Linked DNA regions of Homo sapiens: regions 1, 2 and 4 are each linked to region 3. Evidence: fine-mapped expression QTL. A gene starts in region 3. Each other region holds a variant in brackets. All regions are shown on one strand. Distances are from middle to middle. Region 1 overlaps LHPP (phospholysine phosphohistidine inorganic pyrophosphate phosphatase). Region 2 overlaps LHPP (phospholysine phosphohistidine inorganic pyrophosphate phosphatase). Region 3 holds the start of LHPP (phospholysine phosphohistidine inorganic pyrophosphate phosphatase). Region 4 overlaps LHPP (phospholysine phosphohistidine inorganic pyrophosphate phosphatase).

The links.
Region 1: its variant is fine-mapped to the expression of LHPP in hippocampus (GTEx, PIP 0.99). The same link has a PIP of 0.9 or more in substantia nigra.
Region 2: its variant is fine-mapped to the expression of LHPP in thyroid (GTEx, PIP above 0.99).
Region 4: its variant is fine-mapped to the expression of LHPP in monocytes after LPS (Fairfax 2014, PIP 0.95).

The regions. Positions count from the first base shown.
Region 1 is chr10:124,601,230-124,608,591 of GRCh38, forward strand. All of the region lies in intron 6 of LHPP (phospholysine phosphohistidine inorganic pyrophosphate phosphatase), which reads left to right. Among named protein-coding and RNA genes, the nearest start is that of FAM53B-AS1, 99 kb to the right of the region's middle. RefSeq lists an enhancer at 4,668-5,612. The variant A/G (reference allele first, on the strand shown) is at 4,441.
Region 2 is chr10:124,496,125-124,503,486 of GRCh38, forward strand. LHPP (phospholysine phosphohistidine inorganic pyrophosphate phosphatase) reads left to right here. Exons shown (of 7, transcript NM_022126.4): 4 at 837-900; 5 at 1,912-2,004. Among named protein-coding and RNA genes, the nearest start is that of LHPP, 38 kb to the left of the region's middle. RefSeq lists enhancers at 1-231, 232-809. The variant A/AGCCCCGTCAGGGAGGCC (reference allele first, on the strand shown) is at 2,041.
Region 3 is chr10:124,457,594-124,464,955 of GRCh38, forward strand. It overlaps LHPP (phospholysine phosphohistidine inorganic pyrophosphate phosphatase), which reads left to right and starts at 4,230. Exons shown (of 7, transcript NM_022126.4): 1 at 4,230-4,394. The coding sequence starts at 4,270. RefSeq lists a silencer at 4,110-4,569 and enhancers at 6,086-6,586, 6,587-7,087.
Region 4 is chr10:124,487,289-124,494,650 of GRCh38, forward strand. LHPP (phospholysine phosphohistidine inorganic pyrophosphate phosphatase) reads left to right here. Exons shown (of 7, transcript NM_022126.4): 3 at 1,134-1,287. It also overlaps the pseudogene RPS10P18. Among named protein-coding and RNA genes, the nearest start is that of LHPP, 29 kb to the left of the region's middle. The variant G/A (reference allele first, on the strand shown) is at 4,994.

The sequences.
Region 1 (7,362 bases), 140 kb after region 3:
CTGGGCCCGCCTTGCCCCTTTCAAGGAAGCAGCTGCCGCGTCACACGCTGCAGCGCAGTGCTGCCCATGGTTTGTCGGCCCATATTGTGGGATCTTTCAGATTTTCTCAAGAAGCCAGGTTTCCAGCTCCTAGGTTTGAAAAGTTCTATGTGCGCTTGACCGGGGGGCCTTACGTACGTGAATTGGGTGAGGGCCTGAGACAGGCGGGTGAGCACTTGCCCCACACTCCAGCCAGGATTGGGGGTTCAAGGTACCGCATTTGCCACGTGAGGGAGTCTCTGGAGACCACCAACCCGCTGGTGGGCGGCCAAGCGTCACCACCAGTCCCTCTCAGTGCGTCCCACCTCTGTTCTCAGCCCCTGCGGTGCCCGCAGTCAGTGGGGCAGTGAGAACCGCGCAGGAAATAGCTGGCGCCATGGTGTCGGTTCTGGTTGACAGAGTGCCACCTGGCTAAACCCAGCCGTAAATAAGCCCCGTTTCCTCCCTGTGGACAGAGACTGGTGGGTGCCAAGGTTCACGGCAAAAACCCTTCCCCGCCAGGCCCCACTGCTCTCTGCCTGGCTGGCACACGCCCTTGCCTCAGGCCTGGCTCCCCGGGTCCTGTTGACCACCAGGCTGCAGATCCCAAGGAATGCAGGCATCTGGGTGGCCCCACGTGGAGCACCAGCCATGGGGAGGCCGTGGGCTACCAGGCCCTGCGTGCACTCGCAGCATGCACCACTCCTTCTCCAGGTCCCGTTGACCTCCATGTGTGCTGTGCCCCGTCCTCCGCTGCACTGCCTCTTCGTAGTGCCCCAGCTCCATCCGGGGGTGGGTGGGAGTGGAGACCCCTGCCTACAGGCCTCCGGGTCTAGCCAGAGTCAACCAGCCCACCAGAGACACCCAGATGCAGGCTATGCCCCACGTGCCCAGGGAGGATCTGCTGACGTGAGCCCAGATTTCGATTCTTGTGCGAGGGAGACGAACCAGGTTTAAACCCCAGCTCTGCCACTTCTGGCTGTGACTTTGAGCATGGCTGTTCATCTCTGGGGGTCTCTCTCCTCATCTCAGAGAAGCAGATCATGGTGCGCACCCCATGGCGCGCTGTGCAGAGCACATAGAGACGCCACCCACAGCTGGCTTACTGCAGAGGTGTGGGCCCATTGTGGTATCGCTGATGTCCTGGAGGCCACAAGTCTGCTAGCTAGAGGAGCCTCACCTGCATCCCGGGGCCTGCCCACTGGCTGGTGGAGAGCTCTGGGTTGTGGGCAGCAGGCAGGCCTATTTCCAGTGAGTCTGTGGCTCCTGGGGGTGTGTGAGACCTTGGGCAGATCCCTTCCTGTGCCTCGGTTTACCCACTAGGGCTCAGAGCCCTGGGGGACTGGCTCAGTGAGTGCCTCCTTCTGCGAGGAGAGACTTTTGTCCTTACTAGCCAGAGGACAGGTCAGCCGGGGCAGGCTCTGGGCCCTGGGCACCACCCACTGGAAGGAAAGGGGGTTCAGTTAGCCCAGCCCTGCCCCCCAATGGAAGAAAATTGGGGTTCAGTTAGCCCAGCCCTGCCCCACCCCAGCTCTTCACACATCCAGATCCAGATGGGGGCCAGACCACCAGGAGACTGTAAGGATCCAAGGCCGAGGGGCAGGAGACGCAGTGCGCCCCTCTCCTATTTCTGGGTTGCAACCGCCCACACATGTGCACACAGGGAAGATGTCTCTTTTGGTTGGGGGGCACAGGACCCCACCTCACTCTTAGCTCTGAGACACCCTTGTCAGGCCTCCTGGACAGGTGGGAGGGACAGGGCAGGGTGGGGTGTGGCCAGCTGCAGTCCCTGGGAGGGGTACTGGGGCTGGGCCAGGCCAGGGCAGGACAGAGTTGGGGAATCCAGGCCCCTCACCATTGCCCTGGCTCTTTGTATGTAGTGCTGCCTGCGGGCGGCAGCCTAGCTGGACACCTGCAGTGCGCTCATGCCCAGCCTCTGTGGGTGTCTGGCTCACCCCACGTGGGAGGAAGGCGGGCACGGGTGGTTTGGGCTGGGCAGGCCCAGCCCGGGTGCACAGCTTTCTCATCCACACACACATTCCATGTGTAGGGGCTCAGGGGGAGGGGTCACCTCCTCCCTCCCCACCCCTCCTTGTTACAGAGGAGCAGATGGCCAAACGGATGGGGGACAAGCACCTGACAGGGCCACTGCTCCTGCTCTCAGCTGGGCCAGTGGGAAAGGGAGCTTGGCACCTCCAAGGGAGGTCCCAGCCAGGGGAAGTGTGTCCCCATCCCTGCTCTGGTCCCCAGGCCAGAGAGGTGAGGGACCCAGAGAGGCCCAGGATGAGGACTCCTTCAGTCCTGGGTTTTTGTTTGGATTTTTTTTTTCTGCCAAGTGACTTCAAAGCCGCCCGAGAAGGTCCTGTATGTGTGAGCAGGTTGGGCAAGGGGAGGGCGGGTCTCCAAGCTGGGAGCCTCCTCGCGGCCCTCGCCTCGGCACTGATGTGGCCCTGGACCCTCCGGTCCCTCCAGGCCACCCTTCGTGCCAGGACCCAGCTGGCTTCAATGGCAGGAGGTGCCCTGGGCTGGAGGGTCCCCACGCTGGGCTCCGGGGCTCCAGGTTGACTCAGCAGTCCCCAGGCCTGTGGGCAGAGCTGGCCTGGGAGGACACGGGCCTGAGGGCTGAGCAATCCCTGAGTGAGAACAGGTAGCTGAGGCTGGAGCCTGTGTCCCCCAGGCAGCTGCTAAGGCCCGGGCCTGGGGCTGGAGTGCTGGGCTCAGGTGCCATGTGAGCTCTTTGCAGGCAGGGACCAGGTCAGAGTCCTTTGTGTGCCTCTTGACCCCCAGGTCCTGGGAGAAGAGGGGCTTGGGAGGCCTTGGCTGGATGCACAGGCTCCATGGGAAGGAGCTCCTGCTCGGGTTTCTTTGTAAGCAGCACGACATGGCACCTTCCCAGAGGTACATGGGTCTGGGCATGTCATTCCCCGACCTGCTTCCAGAACCCAGGGGACGGAGGTCGGAGCAGCCTGCCTGAGATCTGTGGCCATCTCCACTCCGCCACCCAGCTACCCCGTAAGGAGGCCACCGACCCTCGGGCACCTGCCAGGGACCCAGCTCAGGCCAGGTCACGGGCTGGATGTGGGATGTTCTGGGCCTTCTGCCCACCTCACTGGGCCCCAGCAAGCTGCTGTCCTGAGGGTGGCCGTGCTGGGCCAGCACGTGGACAGCAGGGAACCCCATGGGCACAGGCCTAGTGTGTGTGATGTACCGGTGCAGACCATCTGATAAGCAGCCTTCAGAGAAGCTGCGGGTGTGCAGGTGGAGGCAGACCTCCCAGCTGCATCCTCCAGGCACTTGCCAGGGTCAGGCTCTGGTGAACACCCTTCTAGAAATAACCCCCCAGGCCCCCGGGGGTCTTGGGCTCCTGGGGTTCTGATGGAAGGATGCCCCTTGCCCGGCCTCACTACCTCCACCTCATGAATCACCCTCTGTCCTTGTCCTGCAAGTCTGTCGGCACAGCCGAGCTGGCGTCACCCTCTGATGCCAGTGCCCAGATCCCTGAATTCACTGGGCAGCCGCCCCCTGCACCTGGCTCCCAGCCACTGCCTTTCCAAAGCAAATGGGGACAGGGATACCTGCCCCTCCCTGGGTAGGCAGCTGTTGCGGCCTCCAGTTGTGAGAGTCTCTGCCCCACCCTGCCCCTTCCCCTGCCCCTGCAGGGTAGAGAGGAGGCGGGTGGGCCACCGACTGGGAGTCCCGGGCAGCTCAGGTCCCTCAAGAGCCCCTCGGGGAGAGGCCGCACCCGTCTCCCTTGGTCAGTGTTCCCCAGGAGGCGGTGCTGGCCTGCGTGTGCCCTGGAGGAGGCGGCAGGGAGACTGGCCTCATGGGGCTCTTTTGCTGGGGCCTGGCCACCATTTTCCTTCGATTGGTACAAAGACTGTCCCTGTGAAGCTGGCCAGGCCCCAGGCACAGAACCGCCTTGTTTTCTGCCTCTCACTCACCCGTTCCCTGCATTCGGCTGACAGAGCATGAGGGGGAGGAATCACTGATGACAGGCACTGGCCTGCCCAGCTGGGGGCCTTTGTTTATTCATTTGGTGGGCACTTCCTGGGTGCCTGCTCTGGGTCAGGCCTGTGGGGGGGACCACCGAGGGCAGGAAACCTGGCCTGTCCCTCCAGGAAGCGAAGTCAACACTGGCACCTGCAGATGAAGTGGCAGAGCAGCCCCCAGCTTTGATGGCATGGGGTGGTTGGAGGGCACATTCTGCATGCTCAGAAGAGAGAGCAACTCGCCCTGTGGAAGGAGCATACAGTGGGAGATGGGGACAGGTGAGTGGGGTCTTGAAACGTGAACAGGAGTTTGCAGGTGGAGCAGGTTTCAAGAGCATTCCAGGGCACAGCATGGGCAATGGCAGGGAGAGCTGGGATGTCTGAAGAGCAGCAGCCCAGACACTGAGTGGCTGGCGAGGCGAGGGAGGTCCGC[A/G]GGTGGGGCCCAGTCAGGATGGACTCATCTGCCATGCTGAGGAGCCAGGCTATGATGTGGGCAATAGGGAGCCACAGCAGTTTACACAGGGGAGGCGGGAGCAGCTGAGCATTTAGGGAAGCCACTCTGGCTGCAAAAGAGGAGAGGGGGCCAGGCAGGAGGGAGAGCCAGTGGAGGGGGAGGGGGAAGGGGAAGGGAACAGGCTTCAGCAGAAGACCTCCTGCCTTCAAGGGGCCCGGGTCACCCTGTGGGTTCCGGTGGTTAAGGCCAGCCTCCTGGTCCTGCAGCCACATGCCTCCCAGCTGTGTGCCTCCGCTTCTACCTCCGAAACCCGGGCAGCAGGACCCACCCTGCAGGCTCCTGCGCAAGGATGGGGGAGGTACCTGGAGGGCCCACCCCACATCAGAAGCAGGTCCTCAGCCAGAGACGCCCAAATGCAGCCCGAGGGAGGCTGCCCCCAGGAGAGGAGAGGAGAACCCGCAGCCGCCCCGCAGGCGCCTGGGGAAATCACTCACTGCTCCCACCTCCCAGCCAGGCCCCGAGGGCCAGGCACTCTGGCTTAGTGAAGAAGCCACCCAGCAAAGGCCTGGTGTCTCCACACCATTCTCGGGGGGACAGCAGCAAGGACGATGGACGGGAGCAGTGCTCAGCCTTAACGTCCCTGTTTCCGGAAGCGTCCCTGCCCCGCTCAGTCCTGCCCCACTCCCTCTCCCATCAGTGCCCTCAGACTCCAGGCCCTTTTCTTTCTTTCCCAGCAGTGCTGACAACTGTGAGTGTGGAACTGGACTGTGAACCCTGGAGGGCAGATGGTGGAGGTGGGAGGGGGCAGGGCCAGCGCCAGGGTGAGCTGCAGGGTCCCCAGGTGCAGGGGAAACGCCAACTTCGTGTGCAGTCTTGCCTCTTTTGTTTCGTTTCAGAGTGGCCCCCAGAGCCAAGCCCTATGCTACCTTACAGATGAGGAAACTGAGGCTCGGGCAGGTGAAGAGACCGGCCCTGGGCCATGCACTTTTTTGGGGACAGAGCAGGGTGCTCAGCTGTCTGGGGGCCTGGGCTGGGCCTGGGGCAGGGGGAGGAGCAGCGCTGTGACCCCCACGGGGAGCCGTCAGCCAGGCCCGTAGCCAGGGAAGGGCGGAGGGGCTTAACGCAGGCCCACATGGCCAGGACACAGAACCGTGGGGGCAGCCCCAGCCCTTCCCTGCCTGTTACAGGCCCCTGCCCCTGTTCCTGTGTCCCATGCCTGTCCCCTCCCTCCATGTGTCTGTCTCTACTCGCCTGCCCTCTCTCTGCCCTCTTTTCTCTGCTTCATCCTCTTTTTCCGTTTCTGCCTGTCTCATGGTTCTTCCTGTCCCTGCCCTCCCTCCCTCCGTGTGTGGCCGTGTCTCTCTGTCTGTCTCTTCCTCCTCCTCCAGCTCTGTCCCAGTAGGGCCACTCCGGGCAGGATGGTCTGCGGCCCCTCCTGCTTCACCCTCTCCGCTCTGTACCCACTGCCGAGGACACACCTTTGCTGGGTTTCTTGGTTCAGCTTTTGTACCGTGACATCTCTGAGGTCCACAGGTCACAGGGCACTGGCCAGTGTGGGGCAGGGACTCCTCCTGCCCAGGCCATTGGACAAAGCAGAGCTGCTTCAGGGGCTTTGGGGCCACCAGGCCAGGAACAGGTCCCCTCCTGCCTACCCCAGCTCCCTGGGAGACACAGCCCACAGCAGCGTCACGTAATTAAGACATAAAAGTCCACGATTTCCGCTGCGTGTGGGCAAACACCGGCCGGGTGCTAATGCAATCCTTTCTTTTAGTGGATTCTTGAATTTAAATGATATGTAATTAAACATAATTAGCCACGGACGCCATTCGGCTAGGTACACGTGCGGAGTGGGGCTGGCCGGATTCTCATTACAAAGCGTCATCTTCTATGGGGAGACCTCTTGTTCCCTCTCGGGGCTGGTTGCTTTTGCCTGGACAATAAGCCTGGCCCCAGGGCACCTGGGGAAGGTGTCCAAGGAGGGGGTCCTGGGGGCCAGTCCCCCGGGGGCTCGGATGATGAATCATGGGCGGTGTTTGCTGGAAGAATTTTTGTTCCGCTTCGGGCAACAAGGAACCCAAACCTCTCACTGTTGTGGGGAGAAAAGTTGGAAATCAGATGGGAACTGGCTGCGGTACCAGAGAGGACGTCAGACCCGGGCCGCGGCCTCAGCCCCCGACTCCTTGTAAGCGTGGGCTGGGTGCACACGTGGCGGCTGCGAGCAGTGCTTTGGAGCTCATCTCCCCAGACCCTAGTGGGAGCTGAGGGCAGCCTGGCAGGGCTGATGCAGGCCCATGCACACAGGCCAGGCAGAGGTGAGACCAGGGAATAGAAGCGTTGCAGGGGCAGAGGGCAGGAGGGGGCAGAGCCTCGGCGTAGGAGTGAGCCTACTGGTCCTTCCCGCAGGCACCCTCCCTAGTGCCAGGTCTGCTGGGACTCCAGGCTGTTGGTATGCCCCCTAGGGTCCTGCTTGGAGCCTTTCTGACCCTCCTGATCCAGTGCCTGTGCCGGGCTTCCTCCCCACTCACCCTGTCCTCCCTGTGCCCCATGTAGCCCACACATCAGTGTGTCCGTCCGTCTGCCTGTCTGCCCCCCACCAGCCTGTGTGCCCAGGGGAAGGCTCAAGGCCGGTCATGCTCTACCTCCCTGGCCAGCCCAGCCCCAGCCCACGGTGCATTCCCTGGACAGGATTGCTGAGTTTTCCATTTTAGCCACAACAGCGCCCACACCCGCGCCAACCAACCTGTCCTTGCCACGAATATTGGCTCCTGCCCTCCTCATGGGAGCCCATGGTGCATGCTATTATGACCTCGGTCTAGAGGCAGGGACACCAAGGCACAGGGGCTTAGGGAAGTTGCCTGAGGTCACGTGGCTGGTAGGGGGCGGAGCCAGCTTTATCCTCAT
Region 2 (7,362 bases), 39 kb after region 3:
TGTGTATTCTTGGCTTTCAATGAACTGCGTCTTCAGAGCAGCGCAGGTTAAACCACTTTCTCGCCTCATTGTAGTCAATTGGCTTAGTTCAGCCAGAGCCAGGTCTGGCCCACCATGTGTCTGGACTGTGAGTGCCTTGAGGCTCAGTGTGACGCGATCGTAGGGTGAGCCTGGCCGGGCTGCAGCCAGCCACCAAGCCAGCCCTGGGCTCAAAGAGCAGTGAGGCCATTTTGAGAGAGGAATGCTCCCTCGTGCAGAGCCTGTCTCCACCTCCATGAGACGGGAAGGAACAGTTGTCTTCTCATAAAAGCATCTGGCGCCCATGAAACCTGGCACCTCGCTTGACCTCCGGCTAACGGGATGCGGCAGGGTGCTGTGGAACTAATGGAGTTCTCTTCTTCAGCCAGCAATTAGGGGTTAATTATTAGCAATTAGGGGTTCGCCACATACCCCGTGGACCTGCTGTTCCTTCCCAGGACACAGGTCACTTGTCATTCTCTGTGTTAGCAACTGAAACCGTCTGCCTTCTGGGTCCCCTGTTAATCATTGCAGCAGGGTCCCCACGAGTCTGACAGCAGGGTTGCGTTCTGTGCGACCTGTGGCATCCCTGGAGCTGCTGGCTGCTGCGCTCGCCCCACTGGGTGTGGCGGCCTGCCGCCCGGCTCTGTGGTGCTGGTCCCCTGCGGTCATTCTCAGCGTAGCGCCTGGACTGCCCCTCAGCCGCGGCTTGGCTCTGCAGCCAGCGGGACAGGCCCGGTGCTCAGCTCCCGATACTTAGCATCCTGCGGTCAGCTCCCCGTGCTCAGCATCCCGTGCTCCGTTCTGCTCTCTCCTAGGCGTTACTACAAGGAGACCTCTGGCCTGATGCTGGACGTTGGTCCCTACATGAAGGCGCTTGAGGTACCAGCCCTGGTTCTGTCCCAAACTCTCTTCAGACCTCAGGGCACCTGGGACTTTTTGGGTCTTTGTTGAGAAGAGGCTGTGCTTAATTAACGTACAAATGGCCTTTTGGGCTTCCACAAAGGCTGCCTTCCTATTCTGGGCTCCCCTGGCCGGGCCCTCGGGCCCTCAGGCCCTCAGCTGTCCTCCTCCCTCCCCATCTCTCCCTTCCCATCCTTCCCATCCTCCCCATCCTCCCCATCCTCCCCATCCTCCCCATCCTCCCCATCCTCCAGTGGGCGCAGCCCCCCCTGCCCGCCGTGGACCCTGCCGCTCTCCCAGCTGCTCTCTGCCACACTCCTCTCGGGCTTGTGGCTTCTGTATCAGTGCTGACCACCGCTCTCATTCCTGACCCTGGGCATCTGCAGCACCTCAAGCTTGACGGGTCCTCACTGGCCTCCTTCCTGACTTCCCCTTCAGTTTCCAAGGCCATCTGTGGCCAGGCCTCCGGGTGGGGCTCCCCTGGGTCCACTCTGGCCCAGGTCCCATTAGCTGCCCCAGGTCAGCCTCACATCCCGTCCCATCCTCACAGCTGCAGCCCCTCCTGCCTGCCTGCCGTCAGGTGGGAGGGAGAGGCAGACGAGCAGATGGAGCCCTGTGATGAGCTGCGAGTGGGCAGGGGAGAAGAGGGGGAGAAGGGATGAGAGGACGGAATTGCAGGCGAGTGAGCAGAGCACTGCTCTGCTGGCCCTTGGGAGCCCTGTAGTTTTGCCAGCTCTTGGATGCCTTCTGCTGTGGGTAGGCCTTTGAGTGGATGGCAGGGTGCCTGGTGCTAGGGGACCTGAGTGACCCGGGCAGCCCTTTCTGGAGTTGTGAGGCTCCTGCCTGTGAGATGAGTTCTCAGGCCCACAGCATCCTGCTTCTTCAAGGCCCTTGACTCTTGGGGGCACATTTGGGACAGTGTTTCCGTGGCTGGGCATACACCTGTTCCTTGATCCCAAACTTATGCCATGTCCCTCTCTCTTTTCCCAGTATGCCTGTGGCATCAAAGCCGAGGTGGTGGGGAAGCCTTCTCCTGAGTTTTTCAAGTCTGCCCTGCAAGCGATAGGAGTGGAAGCCCACCAGGTAGGTTGGCGCCTTGTGAAGTGGGTCAGGGGAGGC[A/AGCCCCGTCAGGGAGGCC]GCCCCGTCAGGGAGGCCCTGGAGCTTGGAATGGATTACAGGACTCAGGCAGCCTGTGGGGTTGGCCAGGCAGCCAAGCGTGGGCTCCCTGTGAAAGCTGACCTGGCTGGGAAGGAGGGGGAAGACAGCAAACGAAATCCACTGAATAGTTTCAACCGTGAAGTTACTTTCAGTATGAAAGCAAGAAGCAGAAATGCCTGCGGCTTTTCCTGAGTTTTTGCTGCTTCTCTGAAAGGATAAGAATTGACAAGTCCTATCAGTGTGTTAATATATCTCACTGGCAAGACAGTGTAACAGCAAGATTACAACAATATGGAGGAAATAATAAAGTCACTCATTTTGCGACCTTTATATTTTGACTATTTTGGGATAGATTGCCTTTCAAACTTCCAAATTTTAGAAAGGAAAAAGAATCGGTTATGATTTTATTGTCTACACCTACCCCAACCCTAAGTGAGTCTGGCTTCGTCCTCCAGTGGGTTTTCTTTTCTTTTTCTTTTTTTTTTTTTTTTTTTTTTGAGCCAATGTCTCCATTTGTCACCCTGGCTAGAGTGCAGTGTAGTGGCACAGTCATGGCTCACTGCAGCCTGGACCTCCCAGGCTCAAGCGATCCTGCCATCTCAGTGCCCCCTTAACCCCCTTACTAACCAGGCCCCCCCCCCGCCAACCCCAACTGAGTAGCTGGGACTACAGGTATATGCCACCACGCCTGGCAAACTTTTTTTTTTTTTTTTTGAGACAGAGTCTCACTCTGTCACCCAGGCTGGAGTGCAGTGGCGCTGTCTCGGCTCACTGCAACCTCCACCTCCTGGGTTCAAGCAATTCTTCTGCCTCAGCCTCCTGATGAGCTGGGACTACAGGTGTGCACCACCACACCAGCTAATTTTTTATTTTTAGTAGAGACAGGGTTTCACCATGTTGGCCAGGCTGGTCTCAAATTCCTGACCTCAGGTTATCTGCCCGCCTTGGCCTCTCAAAGTGCTGGGATTACAGGTGTGAGCCACCATGCCCAGCCCCGGCTAACTTTTGTATTTTCCATAGAGATGGGGTTTTGCCATGTTGCCCAGGCTGGTTTTAAACTCCTAGCTCAAGCCGTCCTCCTGCCTCGGCCTCCCAAAGTGCTGGGATTACAGGCATGAGCCACCAACACACAGCCCCCTCCAGCAGGTTTTCTGAAAGATTGTAAGGAATAGTGGGCAGCCGGCATGGAGGCTGACGCCTGTAGTCCCAACACTTTGGGAGGCTGAGGCAGGTGGATCACTTGAGGTCAGGAGTTTGAGACCAGCCTGGCCAATGTGATGAAACCCCATCTCTACTAAAAATACAGAAAAACAAAAAAAATTAGCTGGGCGAGGTGGTGCATGCCTGGTAATCCCAGCTACTTGGGAAGCTGAGGGATGAGAATTGCTTGAACCTGGGAGGCAGAAGTTGCAGCGAGCCGAGATCATGCCACTGCACTCCACCTGGGTGATAGAGTGAGACTCCTTCTTTAAAAAAAAGAAAAAAGAAACAGAGTCCACAGCTGCCCCAGGCTGTCCTGCTGCCTCCTCAGAAGTGGGCAGCAGAAGCATGGGTTGGGGGTCCCTCAGGTGTCAAGCCTGGTGCATGTTTCCCCTGTGTGCATTTCGGTCCAGAACACTGGTGCCTCATGGTGCTTTGAGAAAGATGGCCCAAAGCTGCCAAAATCTAGACACTGCACCTGCACCTGCCCTGAGATCCATAGAGATGTCAGAAGATGCAGGCTGTCTGGAGTCCCCAGAAAACACCTGGGAAATGTCACATTAGTCTGTTGAGAAGGAAAGGTTTGTGTTTTGAATGAGTGAGAACTGCAGCAATAAATAACCTGGCTTTTTACTACCTTGCTTCATAGGGCAGAATTTCTTTTTTTATTAGAGATTTCAAACATACAGAAAAGTAGAGAGAATGATACAGACACCCCATTATATCCATCATCCAGCTTCAGTGGTTAAGATTTTGCCACATTCCTTTCTTCTATCCTCTTTTTTTTCCTTTTAAAAAATTTACTGGCTGGGTGTGGTGGCCCACGCCTGTAATCCCAGCACTTTGGGAGGCTGAGGCAGGTGGATCACCTGAGGTCAGGAGTTCAAGACCAGCCTGGCCAACATGGTGAAACCCCGTCTCTACTAAAATATAAAAATTAGCCGGGTGTGGTGGTATGCACCTGTAATCCCAGCTACTCAGGAGGCTGAGGCAGGAGAATTGCTTGAGCCCAGGAGGTGGAGGTTGCAGTGAGCCGAAATTGTGCCACTGCATTCCAGCCTGGGCGACAGAGTGAGACTCTATTTCCAAGTAATAGTAATAGTAATGATAATAATAAATTTACTTATTTTTTTGCTTCATATTTTAAAGCAAATCTCAATTGTATCCTTTCATGTTGTAGCATGACATTTAAAAATCACGATTTTTGGATGTAAATACAATACATTAAAACTCCTAACATGGCCAACAGGCATACAAAAAGATACTCAATATCATCATTCATCAGGAAATGCAGATCAAAACTCCAGTGAGATACCACTTCACACTAAGATGACTGTATAGTTAAAAAAAAAAATAGAAAATAACAAGTGTTGGCAAGGATGTAGAGAAATTGGAACCCTTCTCTATTGCTGCTGGGAAGGTGAAATGACAATGCTGCCACGGAAAGCCACTTGGTGGTTCCTCAAAGTTAAACATAGAATTTGCCGTATGACTCAGCAACCCATTTCCAGGTCTATACCCAGAAGAACTGAAACACGTGTTCAAACAAAAACTTGTACACAGATATTCATAGCAGCTCCATACACAATAGCCAAAAGGTAAAAAAAGCCAAGATACCTGCCCATCAACTGATGAAAGGATAACCAAATGTGGTATGTCCATACAGTGGAATATTATTCAGCCATAAAGAGGAATGAAGTTCTGACACATGCTACAGTGTAGATGAACCTTGGTAGCATTATGCTAAGTGAAGGAAGCCAAACACAAAAGGACACATATTGTATTCTTCCATGTATAGCAAATGTCTAGAATGGGCAAATCCATAGAGATGGAAAGGAGATTAGTGGTTGGCAGGGGTCGGGTGCAGGGGAATGGGGAGTGCAGCTTCAGGGTACGAGGTCTCCTTTTGGGATGATACAAATATTCTGGAACTGGGCCGGGCACAGCAGCTCACACCTGTAACCACAGCACTTTGGGAGGCTGAGGAGGGTGAATCACTTGAGGTCAGGAGTTCGAGATCAGCCTGGCCAACATGGTGAAACCCCGTCTCCACTAAAAATACAAACATTAGCCAGACGTGGTGGTGTGCACCTATAATCCTAGCCACTCGGGAGGCTGAGGTGGGAGAATTGCTTGAACCCAGGAGGTGGAGATTGCAGTGAGCCGAGATCGTGCAACTGTGCTCCAGCCTGGGCGACAGAGCCAGACTCTGTCTTAAAAAAAAAAAAAAAAAAAAGAAAAATATTCTGGAACTGGACAGTGATGATGGTGGCACGACGTTCTGAATGTGCTCGATGCCAGTGAATTGAATACTCTGGTCACGGTCATAAATTTTATGTAATGTGTATTTTACCACAATAAACATTTTAAAACCACCTAAAAAATTAACAGTGATTTTTGTTAGTATTATTTAATAGCAACCCATATTTAAATTTCCTTGACTGTCTCAGAAATGCTCTTTTACCGTTGATCTGTTGGAATCCAATCTGAAGAAGCTCCGTGACTTGTGTGTCGTTTTTATGTTTTCTGAGCCTCTCTTTTTAGCCCTCCATCATAGAACATTTGAAATATCTATGTCAGTAGAGAGGGCAGCTCAGGGAACTCCTAGGTACCCATCACTGTGCTTTAATAATTATCAACTAATAACCACTTTAAAATTGTTTTCAACTTTTCATTTTGAAGTAACTTGACACTCACAAAAAGTTGCAAACATAGTACAAAATGTTCACGTGTACCGTTCAGCAGCTTCCCCATCATCATCGAGCAGTGATAAAACCGGGAAATCAACACTGGCACAAGGCGGTTAGCTAACCTAGAGAGCTTATTCAGACACCACCAGTCATCCCACTCATGGCTTTCTGGGGACACGTTGCATGTAGCAGTCATGACCCTAGTGTCCTTTATCTGTGAACTCTGATCACCTGTTGAGGAGGTGTCTTCCAGAGTTCTCTACTGTCATTGCTATTTGTCCCTTTCAGTAATTATCTTTTTTTTTTTGAGACGGAGTCTCGCTGTGTCACCCAGGCTGGAGTGCAGTGGCGCTGTCTCAGCTCACTGCAAGCTCCGCCTCCTGGGTTCACGCCATTCTCCTGCCTCAGCCTCCCAAGTAGCTGGGACTGCAGGCGCCCGCCACCATGCCTGAGTAATTTTTGTTTTTGTATTTTTAGTAGAGATGGGGCTTCACCATGTTAGCCAGGATGGTCTCGATCTCCTGACCTCGTGATCTGCCCGCTTCGGCTCCCAAAGTGCCGGGATTACAGACGTGAGCCACCACGCCCAGCCTTTTTTTTTTTTTTTTTTTTTTTTGAGCAGGAATCTCATCCTGTCACCCAGGCTGGAGTACAATAGCATGATCTCAGCTCACTGCAACCTCCTCCACCTCCTGGGTTCAAGTGATTCTCCTGCCTCAGCCTCCTGAGTAGCTGGGATTACAGGCACCTGCCACCAAGCCCGGCTAATTTTTGTATTTTTAGTAGAGACAGGGTTTCTCCATGTTGGCCAGGCTTGTCTTGAACTCCTGACCTCAGGTGATCTGCCTGCCTTGGCCTCCCAAAGTGCTGGGATTACAAGCGTGAGCCACTGCATCCAACCCTAATAAGTATCTTGTGGGAAAGTTCTTTGACACTATGTAAATATTCTCTTTCTGATCATTAGTTCTAATTTTGGCATCTCTTGATAATTCTTTTATTTTTTTATTTTTTGAGACAGAGTTTCACTCCTGTTGCCCAGGCTGGAGTGCAGTGGTGCCTGGGCTCACCACAACCCCCTCCTCCTGGGTTCAAGCAATTCTCCTGCCTCAGCCTCTTGAGTAGCTGGGATTACAGGCATGTGCCACCACGCCCATCTAATTTTGTGTTTTTAGTAGAGACGGGGTTTCTCCATGTTGGTCAGGCTGGTCTCAAACTCTCAATCTCAGGTGATCCGCCCGCCTCGGCCTCCCAAAGTGCTGGGATTACAGGCATGAGCCACCACATCCGGCCTTCATTGGTGTATTTTATGTGTGGCCCAAGACATTTCTTCTTCCAGTATGGTGCAGGGAAGCCAAAAGATCGGACACCCCTGCTCTAGAGGTTTATGACCAAAATACTGTATTTAAAGCTG
Region 3 (7,362 bases):
GCCCGCCTTGGCCTCCCAAGGTGTGAGCCACTGTGCCCGGCCTGAGAAGCATTTCTGTTATTAATGGTGCTCTGATTTTTTTTTCCACTATAGCCCATCTCAATAAAACAGAAGATTCTTTGGCTCATATGGCCCTCACTTGGTCTGGTCTCACTTTCCAGGGAGATGGGATTTGATAATAAGAAAGGTCTTGGTGACTGGTGGGCACCTGCTACTTTTGCCTATACCATGTTGCTTCCTTATTCCTCTTTCACAGTGCCCTGCTTTTTTGCTTTCTTTTCTCTCTCTTTTTTTTTTTTTAGAGAAGTCTTGCTATATTGCCTAGGCTAGGATACAGTGGCCATTCACAGTTGCAGTTGCAGTCATGTACACTATAGCCTCCAACTCCTAGGTTCAAGTGATCTTCTTTTTTTTTTTTGAGATGGAGTCTCGCTCTGTCGCCCAGGCTGGAGTGCAGTGGCGTGATCTTGGCTCAGTGCAACCTCCGCCTCCCGGGTTCAAGCGATTCTCCTGCCTCAGACTCCTGAGCAGCTGGGATTACAGGCGTGTGCCACCACGCCTGACTAATTTTTGTATTTTTAGTGGAGATGGGGGTTTCACCATGTTGGTCAGGCTGGTCTTGATCTTCTGACCTCGTGATCCACCCGCCTCAGCCTCCCAAAGTGCTGGGATTACAGGCGTGAGCCACCACGCCCAGCTTCAAGTGATCTTCTTGCCCCAGCCTTTGGAGTAGCTGGGACTTCACGTATGTGCTGCCACGTCCGGCTAATGCGCCCTGCTTTTTGCTGGAGGGCTTGTCCTCTCCCTTTCCTTCTGGTCATGGTGGGACTATAGGCAAGTGTCCCACCTCCAGCCCTGGTAAGGGCACCAGTCAGGCTGGAACATCACAGTATCACTTCCATTGGAACACAGACAATGGGGGACACTGACCCAAGAGAGCCAATCAGAGTTCTTTCTGGAACAGCCAGACCAAGTTGAGGAAAAGGATCCTCACCAGGTGGTGTACCGGAGACTCTGTGAGCCCAGAGCTGATAACCAGCCATGCCTGACGCTGTCCATTGCTAGACTATCTGGTTGTGCGAGCCAATAAATTCCTTTAAATTGAAGCCATTTGAAATTTGGCTTCTGTCACTGGCAGCCGAAGAGTCCTGACTATGACAAGCAAATCTGAAAGGATGAGGCATATGTCTAGTATAGCAATAGATGGTTGATAGATTCATAGTTGAGCTGAAATTCAGACATGAGTTGTAGATTTGCTATAACAGGCTGAAAGCTCAGTCAGTGGTGTATGCTTCCTGGCACACTATGGTGTTCATGTGCCACCTGGCTAGCTCTGGCCCAAAAGATGCAAATGAGAGTCCATTGGATCAGGGTTCTGGGAAAGCTTTTGCTTTCTGGGTATAAAGGGTCAGACTCAGCTGTCACATGCCCTTTTTTCTTTTCTTTCCCCTCCTTCCTGCCTGAAATGCAGTCATGATGCCTCGGGTGGAGCAGGAATCTTGCTAGCGTGAGGAGCAGGCCACATGCTGAGAGAGTGGTGGAGCAGAAAGCAGGAGGCAGCCTGATGGTCCTGGGAGCTGTTGTCCCATCCAGGATTTCCTCCCTCTTGGCTTCTTGATATATGAGGAAAAGTAAAATCTGATTTGGTTGGGCAACTATGGCTGGGTTTCTGTTACATGTAGCCAAATGCAACCCTAACATAGACAATGCCCTACACTCATTGCATCCCAAGAAAAGCCTGGAATTTTCAGATCAAGTTTTAGCCTATCAGTGGCCCACACTTAGAGACTTGCCACATTTTTCAGGTGAGGGACCTGGATCCCTGTATTTGTTTCTTGTCACTACTGCAAGAAATTACCATATACTTAGTGGCTTAAAACAACAGATTTATTATTATAGTTCTGGAGGTAAGAAGTCCTAAACTTGAAGTACCAGCAGGGCTGCATTCCTTCTGGAGGCTCTAGGGGAGAATCCAATTCTTTGCCTTTTTTAGCTTCCAGAGGCCACCTGCATTTCTTGGCTCATGGCCCCTTTGTATTCAAGGCCAGTAGCACGGTATCTTCACACCTCTCTCTCTGACCTCTGCTTCTGCTGTCACACCTCCTTCTCTGACTCTGACTCTCTCCTGCTTCCCTCTTTCCCTTATGAGGACTCATGTCATTATACTGGGCCCACCTGGACCATCCAGGATAATCTCCCTACAGGAGCATAGGCTCTGCAAGATCTAAGTCCCTTTTGCCATGTCAGGTAATATATTTAGAGGTTGTGGGGATTGGGAGGTGGACATCTCAAGGGGGCACTATTCTGTCTACTGTAGTCGTAGAAATGAAAAGGGACTTGCCCAAGAGTACCCACAGAGCTGACTGAAAAGAAACAACTATGGGTAGGCTCACACCACTGGCAGAAGCACCCCTTTTCCTCCTCCTTGGCATGAAGCTAAAGCCCAGCCATTCTCCAAGGTCCATTTCAGGCTGCCCCTGCCCAGAAGCCACAGCTGCCCTCCTAGGCCTGCAGAGGTCATCCTCTTGACTGTGTCTGTGTCACTCATTGCCACTTGGCACACATTTGGTCAGCAGTCGTGAAGGTCTTCCATTGTTCTCTGCCCAGTCTTGATCCTGGAAGGCAAGGATCACACCCTAGAACTTTTTTGTGCCCACTGCACAGAGTAGGGTCTCAATACGTGTACGGTTCATGATGTTCCTAGCAGATTCTCCAAACTGACTCACTCAGCCCCTGGAACACTAAAAACTGCATTTCCCAGACTCCTTTGCAGCGTGGGCTAGGTTCCACCAAGCCAGACACAGTGAAAGTGAGTGGGTGGCCACAGGTGGAGGGCACAGTGGTGGATATGTTTTGTTCTTTTGGGGGCAGCTATGCTGGGGGCTGCACTAAGTGATGGGGCAGTGGTCCCAATGGAGTAGTAAAATTAAGTGTTTCTCGTGGCTGCATGGCTCCTGGCTGTGTAGGACTTAGACCCGTCATCTGTAAGCTCCTTCACCTCATGTAAACAAAACCCCTCTAGCTGGAGTGGTGTCTATTGTCTGCGACTAAGAACCCTTATATAAGGTATACTACTCCCCAACCCCATTAGTGGAAATCCCAAAGGGTAGGAACTGTATTTTATTTCACTTGTAAACAGCTCCCCTAGTAAGCATGTCAACAAAATATACACAATTCATTGAACCCCATAACATTTCAACGAATTCCTCATCCTTTCTGTGAATCAAGAGCCTGAAAAGAAATGGTGAAATAATATGATCCTCTCTTCTTTGAAAGCTCAAAGCTATGTTGGACCAGAAGTAAAGTGTTCTCGTTTCTATTTAATAACTTGAAAGGTTCCGAGGGGCCATTGAGGAAACTCCTCCCTTTTAATATCAATGTGTATTTATTGCAAAAATAATGTAGCATCGAGTGGTATTTTATAGCTTATCCAAAAACCTCCTGGGTTTAACGCATTGTGATAGTCCCGTTTTCTTCTCAGCCCAGGTCCTATGCATCCTCATCTATGCAGGGCTGTTATCTGCATATAATTTTTTTTTTTTTTAAGACAAAGTCTTGCTCTGTCGCCCCGGCTGGAGTGCAGTGGTGCAATCTCGGCTCACTGCAACCTCCGCCTCCCAGGTTCAAGCGGTTCTTCCGCCTCAGCCTACCGAGTAGCTGGGACTACAGGCATGCGCCACCACACCTAGGTGATTTTTGTATTTTTAGTAGAGACAGGGGTTTCACCATGTTGACCAGGCTGGTCTCGAACTCCTGATCTCAAGCGATCCACCCGCCTCAGCCTCCCAAAGTGCTGGGATTACAGGCATAAGCCACTACGCCCGGCCTCAATTTTGTATTGTACTTTTTCTTTCTTTCTTTAATAGAGACAGGGTCTCACTATGTTGACTAGGTTGGTCTAGAACTCCTGGGCACAAGCTGTCCGCCCGCTTCTGCCTCCCAAAGTGCTGGGATTGCAGGCGTGAACCACCGCCCCTGGCTACAGGTGCCTTCTTGTCTCAATTTGCCTTTGACCTTTCTTAGGGACTTGTTTTCTGCTTTTCCTGCTCTTTGTCCGCTGATCTCCTGGGAAGAAAGCTTCCGAAAAGGACACCGTTTCAGGGGCGAGTGACGCCGGGGTGCCCAGGCCGCGCCCCAGTTCCGGGTTTGCACCCGGTCTTCTTGCCCTGCCCCGCCCGCGGGACTACAGTTCCCAGGCGCCCCTGCGCGGCCGCGGCGCCGGCGCCGGCGTCGGTTGGGACGCGGAGCTGAGGAGCAGGGCCGGGCGCCATGGCACCGTGGGGCAAGCGGCTGGCTGGCGTGCGCGGGGTGCTGCTTGACATCTCGGGCGTGCTGTACGACAGCGGCGCGGGCGGCGGCACGGCCATCGCCGGCTCGGTGGAGGCGGTGGCCAGGTGAGTGGGCCCCGGGACGCCGCTGGGGCCGCCGAGCTCTAAGCTCAGCCCGCTCCCTGGCTGCCGGCAGGGGGCGGGGCGGCAGGGGGCGGGGCCGCGGCGCAGGCCCCGCCTCGGTCTCCCCCTTCCCACCCCGGTGCGCGCACAGTGCTGACCACGGACGACCCCACTGTTGCCCCCGGCGAGCACCAGGACTCTGCTGGTTAGGGCTGCGCGGTCAGACAGGGCGGCCACCTGGTACGTGCGCTGCTGAGCGCTTGACCTGCGGCCAGTCTGAATTGAGATGTGCTGTAAGCGTAAAATGCATACCGATTAACAAGACTTAGCCGGGCGCGGTGGCTCGCATCTGTGATTCTAGCACTTGCAGAGGCAGAGGAGGGAGGATCGCTTGAGGCTAGGGGGTTGGAGACCACCCTGGGCAACATAGGGAGACCCCGTCTCTGCCAAAAATTTAAAAATTAGCCGGGTGTGGTGGTGCACGCCTGTAGGCCCAGCCACTTGGGAGGCTGAGGCAGGAGGATCGCTTGAGCCCAGGAGGTCAAGGCTACAGTGAGCTGTGATCACCCCACTGTACTCTAGCCTGGACTGCAGAGCGAGACGGTCTCATAAACAAAACCCCCAAAAACACCAGACTTCGTGAGTAAAATGTAAAATAAAAACATGAAAATGGGTTATGTTGTTTGCCTGTTGAAATGATATACTTTTTGTTTGTTTTGTTTTGTTCTTTTCAGATGGAGTCTTGCTCTGTCGCCCAGGCTGGAGTGCAATGGCACGATCTCGGCTCACTGCAACCTCCGCCTCCCGGGTGCAAGTGATTCTCCCCCTTCAGGCTCCCGAGTAGCTGGGATTACAGGCACCCGCCATCATGCCCAGTTACTTTTTTTATTTGTTTTGTTTGAGACGGAGTTTTGCTCTTGTTGCCCAGGCTGGAATGCAGTGGTGCAATCTCTGCTGACTGCAACCGCCGCCTCCCAGGTTCAAGCGATTCTCCTGCCTCAGCCTCCTGAATAGCTGGAATTACAGGCATGTGCCACCACACCCGGCTAATTTTTTGTATTTTTAGTAGAGACGGGGTTTCACCATGTTGGGCAGGCTGGTCTCTAACTCCTGACCTCAGGTGATCCACCTGCCTCGGCCTCCCAAAGTGCTGGGATTATAGGCGTGAGCCACATGCCCAGTTGATAATATTTTTAATATACTGTTTTAGGTTAAAATATTTGAAATTAAGTATACCTTTTTTTTTTAACTTTTGTTAATGTGCTTATTAGAAAACTTTAAATTACCTTTGTGGCTCTCATTATAATTCTGTTGGACTGCATTGGTTTAGGTGAGAGGAGGAGGAAGAGAACATCGTGCCAGCCAAGACTTGACCATGAGGACACTTTTTTTTTTTTGAGACAGTTTTGCTCTTGTTGCCCAGGCCGGAGTGCAGTGGCGCCATCTGGGCTCACTGCAACCTCTGCCTCCCAGGTTCAAGTGATTCTCCTGCCTCAGCCTCCCAAGTATCTGGGATTACAGGCACCCGCCACCACGCCCAGCTAATTTTTGTATTTTTGGTAGACATGGGGTTTCACCATACTGGCTAGGCTGGTCTCGAACTCCTGACCTCAACTGATCCACCTGCCTGGGCCTTCTAAAGTGCTGGGATTACAGGCGTGAGCCACCGCACCTGGCTGACACTTTTCTTTGTATAATTTTTTTTTTTGAGACAAGGTCTCATTATGTTGCCAGGGTGGTCTTGAACTCCTTGGCTCAGGCAGTCCTCCTGCCTTGGTCTCCCAAAGTGCTAGGATTACAGGCATGAGCCACCACACCTGGCCTAATTTTTTTTTCTTTTTTTTTTTTTTTTTTTGAGACAAGGTCTTACTTTGCCACCCAGGCTGGAGTGCAGTGGTTCAATCTCACTGCAACCTCTACCTCAAGGGCTCAAGAGATCCTCCCACCTCAGCCTCCCAAGTAGCTGGAACTACAGGCACGTGCCACCATGCCCAGCTAATTTTTTTGTGTTTTTTGTAGAGATGGGGTTTTGCCATGTTGCCCAGGCCGGTCTTGAACTCCTGGGCTGAAGTGATCTGCCTGCCTCAGCTCCCAGAGTTCTGGGATTAGAGGTGTGAGCCACTGTGGCCAGCCAGAAGGACACTTTCAGTAGCATGGTTGGCACCACTGGACCTGGGCTTTGTAAGGCCTCCTGTTGGCATCCCAGGTCAGCACTGCCATGTGTTGATAGGCAGCCGGGAAGGGCTAACTGCCAGGACTTGGCCTCCCGGAGTCACTAGCTGAGGCACCCTGGCTTGGTAGCCTGATGTCACTGGGACTCAATATACCTATCTGTAGGTGGCAATTAACTGAGTCTCTTGGTCCTTCTTAGAGACCCCATTCTACCAATCTGCATGTCTGATGTCTGGGAGCTGCTGAGATAATAGGGACCCAAACGGTCCCGCATAGTGAAGCCGGAGGTGTTTGGGAGGCTGGGAACTGGGAACAGGGAGACTTGGCTTCCAGGAGCAAGCACAAAGGGCAGCCCAGACCTAGGACACTCCGCTGGGTCCTGGGTCTGCTCTCAGTGTTGGCTGAAGTTCAGGGTTAAGTGCATTCCTGACCTTATTCTCCATTACTCCAAAGCTTTAGACTAGCTCAGTCACAGATGAGAGCATTCTGTGAGTGGCACTGGTGGGAATCCAGCAGAGGGCTCTGGGCAGTGTTTTGGGGTGAAGTGGGCCTCATCTGGGGAGCAGGAAGCCAGAGCTCAATGCTGTGACTGGGGCAGGCAAGGCCTCATGGGAGACCCTGCCACTCATTGCTTGCGGAAGATACATTTGACATTATCTACCAGTGGTTCCACTTCTGAGAATTTGTCCTTGTCTCATGCGTGAGAAATGACATGAGTACAAGGTCATTCCTGGCAGTACCTTTTAAATAGCAAAAGACTGGAAACAGCTCAGATACCCATCAGTAGGGGAGTATTAGG
Region 4 (7,362 bases), 30 kb after region 3:
TTTTTTCAGAGGGATTGCAATATTTTACACGTCCTCCATCTGCTGCAGCTGTTCAGTATCCTCACCAGACCTTGGTGTTATCAGTCTTTTTAATTCTCACCATTCTGGTGGGTATGAAATCGTATCTCATTGTGTATTTCAGTTTCTTTCTTTCTTTTTTTTTTTTTTTTTTGAGACAGAGTCTCGCTCTGTTGCCCAGGCTGGAATACAGTGGTGCAATCTCAGCCCACTGCAACCTCTGCCTCTCGGGTTCAAGTGATTCTACTGCCTCAGACTCCTGAGTAGCTGAGATTACAGGCGGCCGCCACCGTGCCGGGCTGATTGTTGTATTTTTAGTAGAGATGGGATTTTGACCATGTTGGCCAGGCTGGTCTCGAACTCCTGAACTCAGGCGATCCGCCCACCTTGACCTCCCAAAGTGCTGGGATTACAGGCATGAGCCACCGCACCTGGCCTCAGTTTCTTTTCAATTTAGAAAGGTCAACATCTAGTCCTAAGAGAGATGACAGCATGTTTCTTCTAGGATCTGAAAACACAGATCCAATGATTTGATGTATCCTTGCAAATTTTCCTATTTTAATTTAAAATGGGGGAAGACAAAGAAGGAGAAGGAGGAAGAGAGTTTCCTAAGGGAGCTGGTGAACTGGACCTGTGGGGATGGAATTCTGCTTTTTCTTCAGGACATATGTGTGGGGTTGCCTGAAATGTGTCAACGGTTCTTACAGTTTGGGACCAGTAGTGCCAACCCTCCAAGGCTTGTGCAGCCCCATTTCCTCCTGCTGCAGGCTCTCAGTGTCTTCTGAGCAGATTTCCCTTCTCAGTAGCAAAGCTGTGGGTTTCCTGCCTGCGATAGTGACCTCAGGGAGCTCCTGGGGCTGATGTGGTATTGGGATGGAGGGTCCTGGGTGTGTCCACCTTTCTCCTCATAAGCCCTCTCTGAGGAGCCGAATTCCCTCCTCTGTCAAATAGGAATAACCCTTCTGTGTCTACCTCCCATGGCAGCTGTGATGATCAGAAAGAAATGCATCTGAGAAAGGGGGAGGACATGTGAAAGGTGTCCCTGGTAGGAGATGGGGAGGTAGGCCATGTCCTCCCAGGGCTCCGTGGCACTCTGTCTCTCTCTCTCTTTCCAGGAGTCCGCTCAGAATTTGATCAGATCGACACATCCAACCCAAACTGTGTGGTAATTGCAGACGCAGGAGAAAGCTTTTCTTATCAAAACATGAATAACGCCTTCCAGGTGCTCATGGAGCTGGAAAAACCTGTGCTCATATCACTGGGAAAAGGGTAAGTTGGCTCCAGGGAGAGTCATTTCTCGGTGCTTTAGATGATGCTGTGCCAGTCTCCAACTTGCGGAATCAGGCAGAGAAGGATGCAGAAGGGGAGGTGGGAGGAGCACCGGTGATCTTCTTTTCCCTCCCTTTTTCATGCTTTCTCTCTTCATTTCTTTATTCCTCTCCTTTAATCATTTCTTTAGGAAATAGGAACACTGTCTTCAGGAGCTGGTTGATCAAGCTTCCATGTGGAGTCTAGACTAGAAGAGGGCGTCATTGCAGAGGGAGACCCTCTGGAGATCTCAGAGGCCAAGTGTTGATTGTCCCAAGTTTAGAGCAAAGAAGGAGAAGGTGCATTTGCATAGGATGTAGCAGGGTGTTGGAGAATGCTCTCAAGGGTTGTCTAATTAGTAAAACATAGGCTTGAGGGCCTACCCAGTCTGGGCACCGACAGTCTCTGGCCACAGATCACTGTCTCTGTGAAGTTGTGATTTTGTGATCAGTGTTTTGTCTGAGCCTTTAGCACATGCCTTGCCATCTCTTTCTTAAACAAAACAGTGTTGGTTATTTTTAACATTTTTCTTACACTGAGATAGCACATGTTCATTGAAGAAAAATTAGACAATACAGATGAGCAAAAGAAGAAACCAGAAAGTATTTTTAGTCCCACTGCACGAGGAAAACACCTGTCCCTATTTTGGTGTATGTCCTTGCAAGTGGCTTCCTGTGCGAATAGACTATTATGGATGGAGATGTTCACAGCATCGATGTCACACTTGACCTTGTTTTGTCATCTGTTTTTTATTGTTCACCAAACAATATTTGTGACTGACTTAGCATGCAGCAAATGGATATGTCTTGGGGCATGGTTATCTATGGTGTGGCTATCTTGTATATATATATATTTTTTAAGACTGAGTCTCGCTCTGTCACCCAGGCTGGAGTGCAGCGGCGTGATCTCGGCTCGCTGCAACCTCTCCCTCCCGGGTTCAAGCGATTCTCCTGCCTCAGCCTCCTGAGTAGCTGGGACTACAGGCGCCCGCCACCATCCCAGCTAATTTTTATATTTTTGGTAGAGGCGGGGTTTCACCATGTTGGCCAGGATGGTCTCAATCTCCTGACCTTGTGATCCGCCCGCCTTGGCCTCCCAAAGTGCTGGGATTACAGGCATGAGCCACCGCCCCCAACCTCTTGTAATTTTTTTCTTTTTTTTTTTTTCTGCTTATAAGTTTATTCAATGCAAAATAACCCTCACCAGTTTTACTGAGGTGGCTGACCATGTCCACGACCAAATACGCCTGTAAACTGAAATTCGGTTGCTGACCCATTCCCAGCCTCAGCTTTCTCACTGGCACCAGGGGGACAGCACTCCATCTGTGGGTGTCTCTTTCTCTCTATGGCTGTCTGTCTGTGGGTGTCTCTCTCTGTCTGTGGGTGTCTTTCGCCATCTGTGGGTATCTCTCTCTGTCTGTGGGTATCTCTCCCATCTGTGGGTGTCCATCTCTGTCTTTGGGTGTCTCTCTTTGTGAGTGTCTCTGTCTGTGGTTGTCTCTGTCTGTGGGTGTCTCTCTGTGAGTGTCCCTGTGAGTGTCTCTGTCTGTGGGTGTCTCTCCTCGTCTGTGGGTATCTCTCCCTGTCTGTGGGTGTCTCTGTTGGCTTCCCCACTTGTGGGTCTTGCAGGTCGGTCACGCTCCAGACCTTTAGGCCGCAGCCTGCCAGTCTCCAGACCGCTGTGGCATGGGGTAGCAGACACGCTCTCCAGGGGCAGATGGTGGTAATCGCAGAGATTCTGGATCCCCATGTGGGTGAGGTACCAGTAGAAATGTCTCCAGGCAAACTCCTTCCTGCAACCTCAGGACCTGAGAGACTGCCTGGCCTTCATGACGTGAAGGTTGGGCACATTCTCATCTGCCAGCTCCGGGTCTTAGGCAGGTGGACATTCTTCTTGGCTACCGTGACTCCCTCCTTAAAAAGGAGTTCATAAATAGCAATCTGGTTCTTCTTAGGCATCAACATCTCTGCAGCTGTAGGGTCCAGGTCCGGGGCTGGAAAGCATGATTTTTTTCTAACTGATCTCTGCTGATGGCATCTAGATTGTTCCTGGTTTTTCACCATACCAGGGCTGTGATGAGCATCTTGGTGCATTTCGGATGACGTCTCCAGATACAGTTACAGAACGAGTATTTTTGAGGTTCTTGAGGCATGTTGCCAAGTTGTTTCCAGAAAGCTGCACAGACTTATTCTGCACAGCCTAGAATTCTAGAATCACAGGGTTCTGCACAACCTAGAGTTCTGGAATCACAGGGTTCTGCACAGCTAGAATTCTAGAATCACAGGGTTCTGCACAGCTAGAATTCTAGAATCACAGGGTTCTGCACAACCTAGAGTTCTGGAATCACAGGGTTCTGCACAGCCTAGAGTTCTGGAATCACAGGGTTCTGCACAGCTAGAATTCTAGAATCACAGGGTTCTGCACAGCCTAGAGTTCTGGAATCACAGGGTTCTGCACAGCCTAGAGTTTTGGAATCACAGGGTTCTGCACAGCTAGAATTCTAGAATCACAGGGTTCTGCACAGCTAGAATTCTAGAATCACAGGGTTCTACACAGCTAGAATTCTAGAATCACAGGCTCCCAGGGTTGCAAGGACACTTTGGAGTGTCTACCTCAGCATCTCATGAAGTGTGGGAATTCCGAGGCGGTGGCGGAGGAAGTGTTTTCCATCTTCGGTGCTTTCGTTGCTTCTGGTGACAGCGCTCACTGCCTCTGCTTGCTGTACGGGACCAGCTGATGGAACCGACAGGGAGGGACTTTTTATCTGGCCATTGGCCACTGCCACACACTTTGTGTACCCCGTTTTGTGTAATTCTGACTACAACCTTGTGGGATCTAGGCAGGTCATTGCTGTTTTGCAAGTGGGGTTGTTGAAGCCACAGGAGATGAAATAAGCTGCTGTCCCCCAGCCATTGAGTGCTGATAGGATCAGGAGTGCCAGTTGGTGTGGCTGACCCCAGACCCTGTGCGTGTTACCTCTAAGCTACATTCTAGAGCAGACTTTTTGCCCACACAAGCCTTAAATGTGGGCTGGGGACAGTGGCTCACGCCGGTAATCCCAGCACTTTGGGAGGACAAGGTGGGCAGATCACCTGAGGCCAGGGGTTCAAGACCAGGCTGGCCAACATGGTGAAACCCTGTCTCTACTAAAAATACAAAAATTAGCCAGGTGTGGTGGTGCGTGCCTATAGTCCCAGCTACTCGGGAGGCTGACGCATGAGAATTGCTTGAACCTGGGAGGCAGAGGTTGCAGTAAGTCAAGACTGCGCCATTGCACTCTAGCCTGGGCGACAGAGCAAGACTCCATCTCGAAAAAAACAACAAAACCTTAAATGTATTTTTGAGGCTGTGTTTAAAAATGGGGATATTTTACACAAAATATCCAGATTTCTGGATTCTTTTGAAGAATCAGAAGATCTGACAATACGGAGCCTCACATTCCTGCACACACAGCAGCCATAGCTGGAGCCACTGCCTCCATTAGTTTGAATTTACTGCAGACCCCACTCCTCCCTGTCGTCCCTGTCTCCAGACCACAGAGTTAGTTGTCATTGATCGTGTGCCATTTGTTGTTTTTTTCAAAGTAGAGAAGTACTTCTTCACGCTGTGTCTCTATCAAAAATGGACAAGTGAAAGATGTTTCAAGAAATGAAAAGATTTTTTTAGT[G/A]ACAAAAAATTTCTAGTATGTTTCTCATATAAATAAAATGTGTCCTGTATGTAGTCAGGGTTCCTCAGAGAAGCCCGAAGCTACAGGATATAGATATGTAGAGAGATTGTGGAGGCTTGGCGAGTCCAAAATCTGCAGGGCAGGGCTGGCAGGCTAGGGACTCAGGAATGCGCGCAGCAGAGTCGTAAGGCTGTGTGCTGGTGGGATTCTTGCTCGGGGAAGGTCAGTCTTTGTTCTTGTAAAGCCTGCAACTGGTTGGATGTGGTCCACCCACATTGCGGAAGGGAATGTACTCTCCTCCTAGTTCACCGATTTAAATGTTAATCTCATCCAAAAACACCTTCACAGAAACATCCAGAATAATGTTTGACCACATATCTGGGCACCGTGGCCCAGCCAAGTTGACATATTAAATTAACCCTTGTAGTCCCTTTTTAAACTTACACCCATTGCAATTTAGGTCGCTGCTATGGAGCAAGCCACAGAACCTGGCCTCTTAACTCATTTACCCGGGCTGACCCATTAGGCCTTTGAGTCACCAACACCTCACTAGAGAACAAGCATAATGAAGAAGCTCTGCTGTAATTCGTTAATGTTAACACTTTTTTCTTTAAAGATGTCTCATGCTGAGCTTCGTGGCACACGCCTATAATCCCAGCACTTTGGGAGGCTGAGATGAGAGGATGGCTTGAGCTCAGAGGTTCGAGACCAGCCTGGGCAGCATAGTAAGATTCCGTCTCTACAAAAAAGAAAAGAAAAAAAGTTGTCTCATAATTATTAAAAACCACTATTCCAGATCATGGATAATAATAGTCAGAACAGGTATATTGTTGAAAAAGAAAAAAAAAAACCGGAAGCAGTCGCTTTCAGCTTTGTAATACCGCAGCAAATGTCATAGTAGACAAGGGTTTTTTTAAAGTAGGAGATTAGTGGCGTCTCTGCTGATGGGGGTTCTGGGTGTTTAAAAACCAGAGAAAGGAACCGGCGGTTTTAGGGACTAGGTCCCAGCTTCTCAGGACAGCCTGAGGACCCCCCGAGAGCTGCCATCACCATGCCGTCCTCGGCTGTGGGTCACTGCTGGTGAGGTCCATCCTGCACTGCGGGACACAGGGGCACAGGCTGAGCGGTGCCCACCAAGGAGGCAGGAGCAGCGGGTGGAGGCGCCGGGGCAGACTGTCCCTCTCCTGGAAATGGAGTGATTTACATTTGGCATCTGTTTGGACCCCAGAGTGGGAATTGGCTTTGTAATTTCTTCTGTCATGCCGCTCTCAGAAAATTAAGCTGTTTACCCGACAGACTATGGAAGGTTAACGGCTCTTCTGGGAAAGGTCAAGTGGTCATTTGCAGGGAGGCTGTGCTGAATAATCTGAAACGGCAGAAGAATAAAGCATAAAATCGCATCTGACTCCTCCTCCCGGGCTTCCCCCTTTCTTTCCAGCATCCACGGGTTCCTCTTTGTGGCTAGAACATTCACGTCCTAAGTGGGGCTGCCGTTGGCTGGGTTAAACCAGTAACCAGTAACAGGAGAAATACGTCGCATCTCTAGTGTGTGGAGATTACCGGGCCTTTATATTAAAAAAAAATTTTAAGTGCTTATATTTGCTCTGTCTCTAAAAAATGTTTCCAGGTAACAGTTGGCCTCAAGATGCCTTTTTGTTTTTCTGAATGAATAAGGAATAAAGAAAAATTCTGGGCACTATAAAATCAAGCCCAGATTCAGTTTTTTAAAAAATAAACGTTAAAGTTTCTCATTTTGATTTCTGGAAGTTCGTGTTCTCCTTGGACTCTAAAGATTAGCATGCAAAGACAAGGTTTTGATTGTGTATTTTCAGTTGCACGTTCAGTTTTTTTAAAATCCCATCCAGGACTAAATTTAAACATAAGAAAATCCAGGTTTCTTTCGCTTTCGAAGAGGCTGCAGGGAACTTGAGGCCAGAGGAAGTGGCGCCGCGTGGGTCCCCTTAGGAGGTTTTGCCAGATGATGGGAGGTGCTTGCTCCCGTCCACCCAACCTCTAGCTCCTCCAGCCGGCCCCAGGGTAGCTGAGGGACAGGGGTCTGGGCCCAGAAGCCCCCAGAATCCTCAGCTCCAAACAGAGCTGTACCTGTCGCAATGGAGTAGTTTTGTTGATTTCAGGTTTTCTTTTGTTGCTGGGTAAGCATTTCCTGTGTGGGGTATATTCTTTCCTCCGTCCTGGCTTACTTCCACACATCACTTCATTAGGGAGGCCCTCCCTACCCACCTCGATGCCCTCCTTCTCCTGGCACAGGTGGGCAGGAGGGGACGAGGGTCATGGCCTTTGAGGGCCTGCAGAGGGCCTTGCCTGTGGTGGCGTGGCCACCCTGGTCCTCAGCAGGGTGCTCAGTGGAT